Homo sapiens: one gene and its partners. The protein of the gene in region 1 interacts with the protein of each later gene in a biochemical or structural test. Each region holds a gene or a part of one and is shown in the gene's direction. Other genes may lie near its edges. The genes, in order: IGSF5, PDZD2 and LDB3.

What was found.
Region 2: the proteins of IGSF5 (region 1) and PDZD2 interact in a test that uses a peptide from one of them, tested with the Homo sapiens proteins (one large-scale study listed by IntAct).
Region 3: the proteins of IGSF5 (region 1) and LDB3 interact in a test that uses a peptide from one of them, tested with the Homo sapiens proteins (one large-scale study listed by IntAct).

What each region holds. Positions count from the first base shown.
Region 1 is NC_000021.9:39,799,787-39,802,641, forward strand, and holds the end of IGSF5 (immunoglobulin superfamily member 5), read left to right. Parts: intron 1-1,475; coding exon 1,476-1,571; 3' UTR 1,572-2,295; downstream 2,296-2,855. UniProt on the Homo sapiens protein: Provides, together with MAGI1, an adhesion machinery at tight junctions, which may regulate the permeability of kidney glomerulus and small intestinal epithelial cells. Mediates calcium-independent homophilic cell adhesion.
Region 2 is NC_000005.10:32,086,504-32,090,158, forward strand, and holds part of PDZD2 (PDZ domain-containing protein 2), read left to right. Parts: intron 1-627; coding exon 628-3,655.
Region 3 is NC_000010.11:86,716,897-86,720,551, forward strand, and holds part of LDB3 (LIM domain-binding protein 3), read left to right. Parts: intron 1-1,067; coding exon 1,068-1,248; intron 1,249-1,830; coding exon 1,831-1,951; intron 1,952-3,655. UniProt on the Homo sapiens protein: May function as an adapter in striated muscle to couple protein kinase C-mediated signaling via its LIM domains to the cytoskeleton.

The sequences.
Region 1 (2,855 bases):
AGATGGGTCCTAAAGCACATTGCATTCAACGTAAATGAAAAAATAGAAACCTAGACTGTAGAGATCTCAATCATGGATTAAATTGTAAGAAGGGTCAGAAGGAAAAAAGAGATTCATTTTCAAAACTGTCATATACAATATGACAATTTTCTTCTCTGATTATTTCTCTGATGACTGAATCTACAGTTAGAATATGTAGTACTGACATGGTTTTCTAGACAAGAGTTTCCCTGTTGGTGAAACAGAATGAATTTGGGTGCAACTGCAGCTGAAACACATTAGGGTAAAAGTAATAAGTAAAATTAGAAATTCCTACTAAAATAACCAATTACTGGGAAAGGCATGCTTTTTTATTTCAATATGAAGCCAGGGGATTTGCAAATGTTTTTTATTTTGGCGAATATTTAAAACAAAGAATCCTCCTTTTCCTCTCTTTGTCCTGTGCCTTAACTCACTGTCAGTGCATTTTCCTGGCTGTTTTAGGAAATTCTCTGTCTCTGTCATTTTCAGAAGATGGGCATATAAACAACTTGAGACCTGGATCAAGCCTTCCCCACAAATCACCCCCTCATTGAGACAAACAGAAATACATACTTGATAAATTTAGAAAACAGCGATGTTTGCACAACCCAGCAGTGAAAACAAAAGCAAACGACAGTAGGAATCTCTAGCATATTAGCAGCAGAAGGCACATGTCTTAAAGCACTGCTGACATAGTTCCATCCGCTGTCCAGTTTTCCCTGTGTTATTGGGAGTCAACAAATTAAGAGCGTGAGCCAGAGTAATTCTATCCTCAAGACTTGCTAGCATTCCATCACATTGTGAATAATTTATCATGCCCAGTTACATTATTTAAGATGTTAAGTGCAGCTATTGTGCCCTGGAACCTGAGCTGCCATTCTCAGGACTGGCAGGAAAAAAGTGTTGCACACATTTTAATAAGGCAATATTATGAGACAGGCATTGGCCACTCTGGAGGATTAAATGGTTTGTTTGGGATTACATTTCTGAATGAGAACAGGGAAGACTATGTTTCTCCCTGATAGGGAAAAGAGACAGGTGGGTGATCTATCTGGAGTCAGTTCTTCAATTTTGTCCCCCTGTTCTAGAAACAATGCACGCTCTTTAAGAAGTTTAGAAATATTTTATATTTTCATAAAAAATCTAGCCAGTAAAGCAAGAACTTCCTTAGGAAAATTGAAACACAAAACAAAACAATGAGTCGTGGTAATTTGCCTTAGTCAAAACAAATACTGATTCTTGGAATTGGATTGCCCTTTAGGGCCTGAACTTGGAAAACTTCTATATTGTGTGTTACCAGAAATAATGCAAGAAAGGAAGAGCTTATTTTAACATTTTTGTTCCTCTCCGTACCTTAATTTTATCTTAACAGATGAGTGAAGCTCTCTTTTCAAGTTTGCATTTTACAGTGATCTCAACCCATTAAATTGACTTTTTTCCTCCTCTGTTGCCAGCGGGCTGATCAACGTCCACCCAGGCCAGCAAGTCATCCACAGGCTTCTTTTAATCTGGCCAGTCCTGAGAAGGTCAGTAATACAACTGTAGTATAGCAAAGCCTTCCCCAAGCTCCACTGAGCACTTGGCTGACAATTCAAAACACGGCGATGGCATCCTTCCTTTCCATCCTAAGACTGGCCTGCAGCTTTGCCAACATTACCTGAAGAGGAGATGTCGGAGTCATCAGAACTGATACTTGACAGTGAGAGAAGGAATCGATTTTCCCAGAGTTCAAAGTAGAATGTGACTTTTAAGAGGTTTCATGGTTTTTGTGAATTCCATGAAGTTACTAAGTAAAAGCTGCAAATTCATCATAATTTTTCTCAACATTCAACACTCCTACTTGTTAATCCAACAAATGGTAGATAAAAGTCTGTATTCTACCATGCCTTTCAAAAGTTTTTATTATCTGAAAGCATATGAAGATGATATTTATGTATATTTAATATGTAGGGGTATTATTACATATTATCAGTGAAATACGAGTATAAAAATTAGGGTCAACCAGAAATCTGCAATTGACTGTCAAAACTGAGCTCAGTTAAAGTAAGATTCAATTCTAACATGGATGTGCACGTTCCTAAATATCTTATGATTGAATATTTACATGAAGGCATTCATTTTTATCTGCCCCTTTATCAGACCTATTTGCATCTCCTCAAATGAATTAGATGTGGCCTATGCTTTGCAGAGGATGGACCTCACCTACTCCGCACACCGTGAAAAAACTGGAAATGGGCATTGTAGTCTTTAATTAATAAAAACACCAAAAATGTGTATTGCCTTTCTTAACTCTTCACTATTCAGTTGGTCATTTAAAGAATCATAGTATTCGGGAATCAAGCCTTTTCCGAGAAGGAAAACAAGAGCCTTCTGCAAAAATCCATCACATCTTCACAATTATCTTTGCTGACTGTACATTCACTTCATTTAAAGTTAACATGAATGTTGTTATGAAGAATAAATTGCTGCCTTTCCCCAGTATTTTTCTTTTTCCATGTAGATACAGTCAGTGAATTTAACTGCCCATTCCACCCCTTCATATTTAACCTAGGGGCAAGACTGTGATTTGACCGTACTCTGAACTGGTTGGTGCAGATTTCTATGCTGGTTATAATTAGCAACTGCTTTGAGTCCCTCAAGCTCAACCATGCTATTGCTAAAGCAGAATTTGACTTTTAAAATATGTCAGGATTTTAGTGAATTCCTTACGGATACTTAGTAATAGATGCAAATTTGTCATGGTGTTTCTAATCACTCACTCCTGCTTGCTAATCCAACAAATGGTAGAGAAGTCTTACACTACCATGATGTATAAAATACTTTTATAATCTTAA
Region 2 (3,655 bases), on another chromosome or scaffold:
AGAAAAATGGGCAGATGTAAATGTTTCTTCTGCCGGCTAATCTGAGTTCTCTTAGAGCGTCTAAAGCAGGGTGGTATTTGTTAGATGTGGGTACTCTATAATTTTAGAGAGAAAACCAGGAAGACAAGAAGGGCCTCCATTTAGGCCACAGAACGCCGTTTTGTTGTTGTTGTTGTTGTTGTTGTTTTCTGAGACGGAGTTTCGCTCTTTTTGCCCAGGCTGCAGTGCAATGGCACATTCTCGGCTCACTGCAACCTCCACCTCCCAGGTTCAAGCAATTCTCCTGCCTCAGCCTCCCAAGTAGCTGGGATTACAGGTGCCCACCCCCATGCCCAGCTAATTTTTTTTTTTTTTTTTTTTTTTTTAGTAGAGATGGGGTTTCACCATGTTGGCCAGGCTGGTCTCGAACTCCTGACCTCAGGTGATCCACCCGCCTCCGCCTCCCAAAGTGCTGGGATTACAAGCATGCGCCACCACGCCCAGCTTTCTGAAAAAGAAAAAAATATTTGAGGTTGTTTATAATTTTCTAGTTTTTAATAATTGAGGGGCTGCTTTCTTATATTATCCCTTTTATCTCCCCTACAACCTCTCCTGTGTATGTACCTTCTGTTTACGTTCCCCACGTAGAACTGGACAGCTCCTCAGACCTCATCTCTTCCCCAGGGAAGAAGGGGGCCGCTCATCCTGACCCCAGCAAGACCTCTGTAGACACAGGGCAAGTCAGTCGGCCAGAGAATCCCAGCCAGCCTGCATCGCCCAGGGTCACCAAGTGCAAGGCCAGGTCTCCAGTCAGGCTCCCCCATGAGGGCAGCCCCTCCCCGGGGGAGAAAGCAGCGGCTCCCCCTGACTACAGCAAGACTCGATCAGCATCGGAAACCAGCACACCCCACAATACCAGGAGGGTGGCTGCCCTCAGGGGAGCGGGACCTGGAGCAGAGGGAATGACACCAGCTGGTGCTGTCCTGCCAGGAGACCCCCTCACATCCCAGGAGCAGAGACAGGGAGCTCCAGGTAACCACAGTAAGGCTCTGGAAATGACAGGAATCCATGCACCTGAAAGCTCCCAGGAGCCTTCCCTGCTGGAGGGAGCAGATTCTGTGTCCTCAAGGGCACCGCAGGCCAGCCTCTCCATGCTGCCATCCACTGACAACACCAAAGAAGCATGTGGCCATGTCTCGGGGCACTGCTGCCCAGGGGGGAGTAGAGAGAGCCCTGTGACGGACATTGACAGCTTCATCAAGGAGCTGGATGCTTCTGCAGCAAGGTCTCCGTCTTCCCAGACGGGGGACAGTGGCTCTCAGGAGGGCAGTGCTCAGGGCCACCCACCAGCCGGGGCTGGAGGTGGGAGCTCCTGCCGTGCCGAACCAGTCCCGGGGGGCCAGACCTCCTCCCCGAGGAGGGCCTGGGCTGCTGGTGCCCCCGCCTACCCACAATGGGCCTCCCAGCCTTCGGTTTTAGATTCAATTAATCCCGACAAACATTTTACTGTGAACAAAAACTTTCTGAGCAACTACTCTAGAAATTTTAGCAGTTTTCATGAAGACAGCACCTCCCTATCAGGCCTGGGTGACAGCACGGAGCCGTCTCTGTCATCCATGTATGGCGATGCTGAGGATTCTTCTTCTGACCCTGAGTCACTCACTGAAGCCCCACGAGCTTCTGCCAGGGACGGCTGGTCCCCTCCTCGTTCCCGTGTGTCTTTGCACAAGGAAGATCCTTCGGAGTCAGAAGAGGAACAGATTGAGATTTGTTCCACACGTGGCTGCCCCAATCCACCCTCGAGTCCTGCTCATCTTCCCACCCAGGCTGCCATCTGTCCTGCCTCAGCCAAAGTTCTGTCATTAAAATACAGCACTCCGAGAGAGTCGGTGGCCAGTCCCCGTGAGAAGGCCGCCTGCTTGCCAGGCTCATACACTTCAGGCCCAGACTCTTCCCAGCCATCATCACTCTTGGAGATGAGCTCTCAGGAGCATGAAACTCATGCGGACATAAGCACTTCACAGAACCACAGGCCCTCGTGTGCAGAAGAAACCACAGAAGTCACCAGCGCTAGCTCAGCCATGGAAAACAGTCCGCTGTCTAAAGTAGCCAGGCATTTTCACAGTCCGCCCATCATTCTCAGCTCCCCCAACATGGTAAATGGCTTGGAACATGACCTGCTAGATGACGAAACCCTGAATCAATACGAAACAAGCATTAATGCAGCTGCCAGTCTGTCCTCCTTCAGTGTGGATGTCCCTAAGAATGGAGAATCTGTTTTGGAAAACCTCCACATCTCTGAAAGTCAAGACCTGGATGACTTGCTACAGAAACCAAAAATGATCGCTAGGAGGCCCATCATGGCCTGGTTTAAAGAAATAAATAAACATAACCAAGGCACACATTTGAGGAGCAAAACCGAGAAGGAACAACCTCTAATGCCTGCCAGAAGTCCCGACTCCAAGATTCAGATGGTGAGTTCAAGCCAAAAAAAGGGCGTTACTGTGCCTCATAGCCCTCCTCAGCCGAAAACAAACCTGGAAAATAAGGACCTGTCTAAGAAGAGTCCGGCAGAAATGCTTCTGACTAATGGTCAGAAGGCAAAGTGTGGTCCGAAGCTGAAGAGGCTCAGCCTCAAGGGCAAGGCCAAAGTCAACTCTGAGGCCCCTGCTGCGAATGCTGTGAAGGCTGGGGGGACGGACCACAGGAAACCCTTGATCTCACCCCAGACCTCCCACAAAACACTTTCTAAGGCAGTGTCACAGCGGCTCCATGTAGCCGACCACGAGGACCCTGACAGAAACACCACAGCTGCCCCCAGGTCCCCCCAGTGTGTGCTGGAAAGCAAGCCACCTCTTGCCACCTCTGGGCCACTGAAACCCTCAGTGTCTGACACGAGCATCAGGACATTTGTCTCGCCCCTGACCTCTCCCAAGCCTGTTCCTGAGCAAGGCATGTGGAGCAGGTTCCACATGGCTGTCCTCTCTGAACCCGACAGAGGTTGCCCAACCACCCCTAAATCTCCTAAGTGTAGAGCAGAGGGCAGGGCGCCCCGTGCTGACTCCGGGCCGGTGAGTCCGGCAGCGTCTAGGAACGGCATGTCCGTGGCAGGGAACAGACAGAGTGAGCCGCGCCTGGCCAGCCATGTGGCAGCAGACACAGCCCAACCCAGGCCGACTGGCGAAAAAGGAGGCAACATAATGGCCAGCGATCGCCTCGAAAGAACAAACCAGCTGAAAATCGTGGAGATTTCTGCTGAAGCAGTGTCAGAGACTGTATGTGGTAACAAGCCAGCTGAAAGCGACAGACGGGGAGGGTGCTTGGCCCAGGGCAACTGTCAGGAGAAGAGTGAAATCAGGCTCTATCGCCAGGTCGCAGAATCATCCACAAGTCATCCATCCTCACTCCCATCTCATGCCTCCCAGGCAGAGCAGGAAATGTCACGATCATTCAGCATGGCAAAACTGGCGTCCTCCTCCTCCTCCCTTCAAACAGCCATTAGAAAGGCAGAATACTCCCAGGGAAAATCAAGCCTGATGTCAGACTCCCGAGGGGTGCCCAGAAACAGCATTCCAGGGGGCCCCTCGGGGGAGGACCATCTCTACTTCACCCCAAGGCCAGCGACCAGGACCTACTCCATGCCAGCCCAGTTCTCAAGCCATTTTGGACGGGAGGG
Region 3 (3,655 bases), on another chromosome or scaffold:
GTCCTTCTGGCTTGCCATCTGGTCTTACCTCTCTGAGCCTTAGCTGCCATACCTGTGTGACACCCACTCTCCCAGGGAGCTGGGAGGAATGGCATGAGGTATGTGGGTGAAGCTCCAGCAGGATGCCTGGTGCCAGGAACTCCCCCTTGGGCTAAGGTTGAGGTCTGGGAATCACCAGGCTTGTCAGTAGGTTTACAGGGCATTTTGTTAGACAGTGTTGGTTTTGACCCAGTTTTCCTTTAGGGTTGTTTCTGGGTCTTTCCACAGACAGGCCTGGGCTGCTCAGGGGGTTGGTGGGCATCTGCCAGACTAAAATGAAAACAAGTGATTTCATACTTAGAAGCCATGGACCATGGGTGCTGTTGTTTGAATACAGTATGTTTGTGTGCATGTGTGGTGTGAGCTTATATACGTGAAAAATACACTTTTATTTAAAACTAAAGTAATACATACTCATTAGTGAAGAATTGGAAAACACAGAAAAGTAAAAATTAGAATATAAAAAAATGTCTTCATAGTCCCACTGTTCTGACTGCTAACCTGGAACTAGACAATACAAGTTTGTATCCTGGTCTACCACTTACTAGCCCTATGGCCTTAAACAAGTTGTTCAAACTCTGTGTGCCTCAATTCCCCTATCTAAAAATGGGTATTATAATAGTACCTAGTGCGTAGGATTGTTGTGAGAATTAAGCAAGTTAATAAATGCAAAAGTCTTCTTGAATAGAGCCTGACACAGAGTAATCACTTAATAAATGTTAGCCATCAGCATCATCATTATTGCATTTCTTACTATCATTATCAGTGGTCAACTGAATTCTATAATATGTTTACCCAGTCCCCTATTGGTAGATGTTTGAGTTGCTTCCTGATTTTCTTTATTGTAAGTGATGCAACAATGAACACCTTTCTGCATGGAGCTTTCTCTGAATTTCACATTACTTCATCAGAACAGTCACAAAAGTCAGAGTTATTGGGTAAAAGTATAAACAGTGTTGGGGTTCTTCAAATATCTAATTCCAAGTTCTGGGAGCTGCCTTACTGGGTGCCATTCTGTGCTTCCCCAGGGGCCCATTTCTGGTAGCCATGGGCCGTTCTTGGCACCCTGAAGAGTTCACCTGTGCCTACTGCAAGACTTCCCTGGCAGATGTGTGCTTTGTGGAAGAGCAGAACAACGTTTACTGTGAGCGATGTTATGAGCAATTCTTTGCCCCGCTGTGTGCCAAGTGCAACACCAAAATTATGGGGGTAAGTGGGAGGCCTCCATTTCCTCTGACCCATGTCTCTTCCCCAGCCCTTCCCCAAGATCGTGGGATCCCATTAGGAAGCCAAGAAGTTGCTGGTAACAGAGAAAGCAACTCCATTTTTATCCTAAAAGGGAATTGGTTTGCCACCAATAAACTTGGGGATAAATGAACTTGATGCAAGAGATGATTGTGTGCCTGTTCCACACAGCTTGAAGTGGTGGTGGAACTTCTGCAAAGCAAGTGGTTGCTTCACAGCCTGACCTTACCACTCACCAGAATGTGGCCTTAACCCTCAATGCCCCTTTGGTAAATGACAGTAATAAGCAGTACCTCCTCCCAGGTTTAATGGGAGGATTAAGCCTCACAGTTTATGTAAGAAAGCACAGAACCTGGCACCCAGCTGGAGAGTGACAACCCCTTCTCTGACACCCCTGGGTCTTTCTTCAGAGTGACCAAGGCCTGCATCCTGAGATCTCCTGCCCTGTTCCCTGGTAGGATGCTCGGGCAGTGGCTGGAGCCTGGTGGGGTAGTCAAGCCCGCTCCCTCTCTCCTTTCTGTCCTGAGCTTAGGCTCTTTCCCCCAGGAAGTAATGCATGCCTTGAGACAGACATGGCACACCACCTGCTTCGTCTGTGCGGCCTGCAAGAAGCCTTTTGGGAACAGCCTCTTCCACATGGAAGACGGGGAGCCCTACTGCGAGAAAGGTAGGAACACTTCGATGGCATGTGGGGAGGCCCCACAGCCTGGGAGAAAGGGGCAGGCACAGGGAACTAACTCCTGCCTAATCCATTCACATCCGACCACCCAGAGGCCTTTATTTCTGGAAGAAACCTTTGTTTTTGCTTTTAATGGCAGAATCATGCTAATATCACACAAAGGAAGTTAACTATCTCCCCTGCCCATATGGTTGCAGCTTTGGGGAGAGTGAGGTGCAGAGTCTATAGCTTATTTTATGCATCAAATATGTGGATCTGGTTAGGTGAGGTGGCTCACACCTTAATCCCAGCACTTTGGGAGGCCGAGACAGAAGAATTGCTTGAGCCCAGGAGTTTGACACCAGCAACATAGCAAGACCCAGTCTCTACAAAAAATATAAACATTAGCCAGGTGTGGTGGCGCGTGCCTGTAGTCTCAGCTACGCAGGAGGCTGAAGTGGGAGGGTCGCTTGAGTCCAGGAGTTCGAGGCTGCAGTAACCTGTGATAGCACCACTGTATTCAGCCTAGGCAACAGAGTAAGATCCTGTATCTCAAAAAAAAAAAAAAATGTAGATCACAAGTTGGCATCTTATGACCACTGGGAAACCTTTCAGGTTATTTTGATTTGGAGACCACAAGGTCTAGTCTGAAAAGGCCTTGGCTGTGGACTTTGTCCTTCATTCTATTCCTGGTTCCACTTTGGGCTGCTTTGTAAACCTGAGCAAGTTACTAACCTTCTCTGAGCCTTACTTTCCTCGTCTGTAAACACCTGCCTTACAGAGCTGTGGTGAGGATTAAACCAGAGAAGGCGTGTAGAGCATCAAATATGCGAGACCCCTTCCTCTGCCCCTGTGATATTTATCAGACTTTGATGTTCCTGCAGATTCCTGTAATCTCACGGAGTGAATTCAGAGTTTCTCTGTACCCCCAAAATGCTATATGTTATCTTAAAATGCTAAGTAAATTATTGTAAATTCAAGAGACAAAGCACTTCATTAGATAGGTGGAAGTCAGTCACTCATTTATTCAGAGGCTTCCCCCTTCAGAAAGGATTTGAAGCAGGTTCCAGAAAAGGTAACACAGACATGAAGGCTAAGACAGTAGAACCAGAAAATCAGAGGCGGGAAAAGCAGGCATGCTGATTATGAAGAATAACAGAGCTGCAGGGACTAACTGGGTAGCAAATTTGAGGGCAAAAAGAGAAACACAGTAAGTTAGTTTACTTTAAAATCAGAAAGGAGAAAACATTCAGTTCCTCAAGGGAAAAAGCAAAACAAAATAAAACTTCTTTCCCCTGACTGTAAATTAGAAAATAAACGTTTTGGCTGGGCGCGGTGGCTCACGCCTGTAATCCCAGCACTTTGAGAGGCCAAGGCAGGCGAATCACCTGAGGTCAGGAGTTCAAGACCAGCCTGGCCAAAATGGTGAAACCCCATCTCTACAAAAATACGAAAATTAGCCGAGCATGATGGCGGGCGTCTGTAATCCCAGCTACTCGGGAGGCTGAGGTTGAAGAATCGCTTGAACCCGGGAGGCAGAGGTTGCAGTGAGCTGAGATACTGCCGTTGCACTCCAGCCTGGGCAACACAGTAAGACTCCATCTGAAAAAAAAAAGAAAGAAAGAAAAGAAACGTCTTGGGTTCTTGTACTAGTGAATGCCCTTCCCAGCTCTGAAGTTAACTGAATGACCTGAAACAAGTCACTTACTCTGT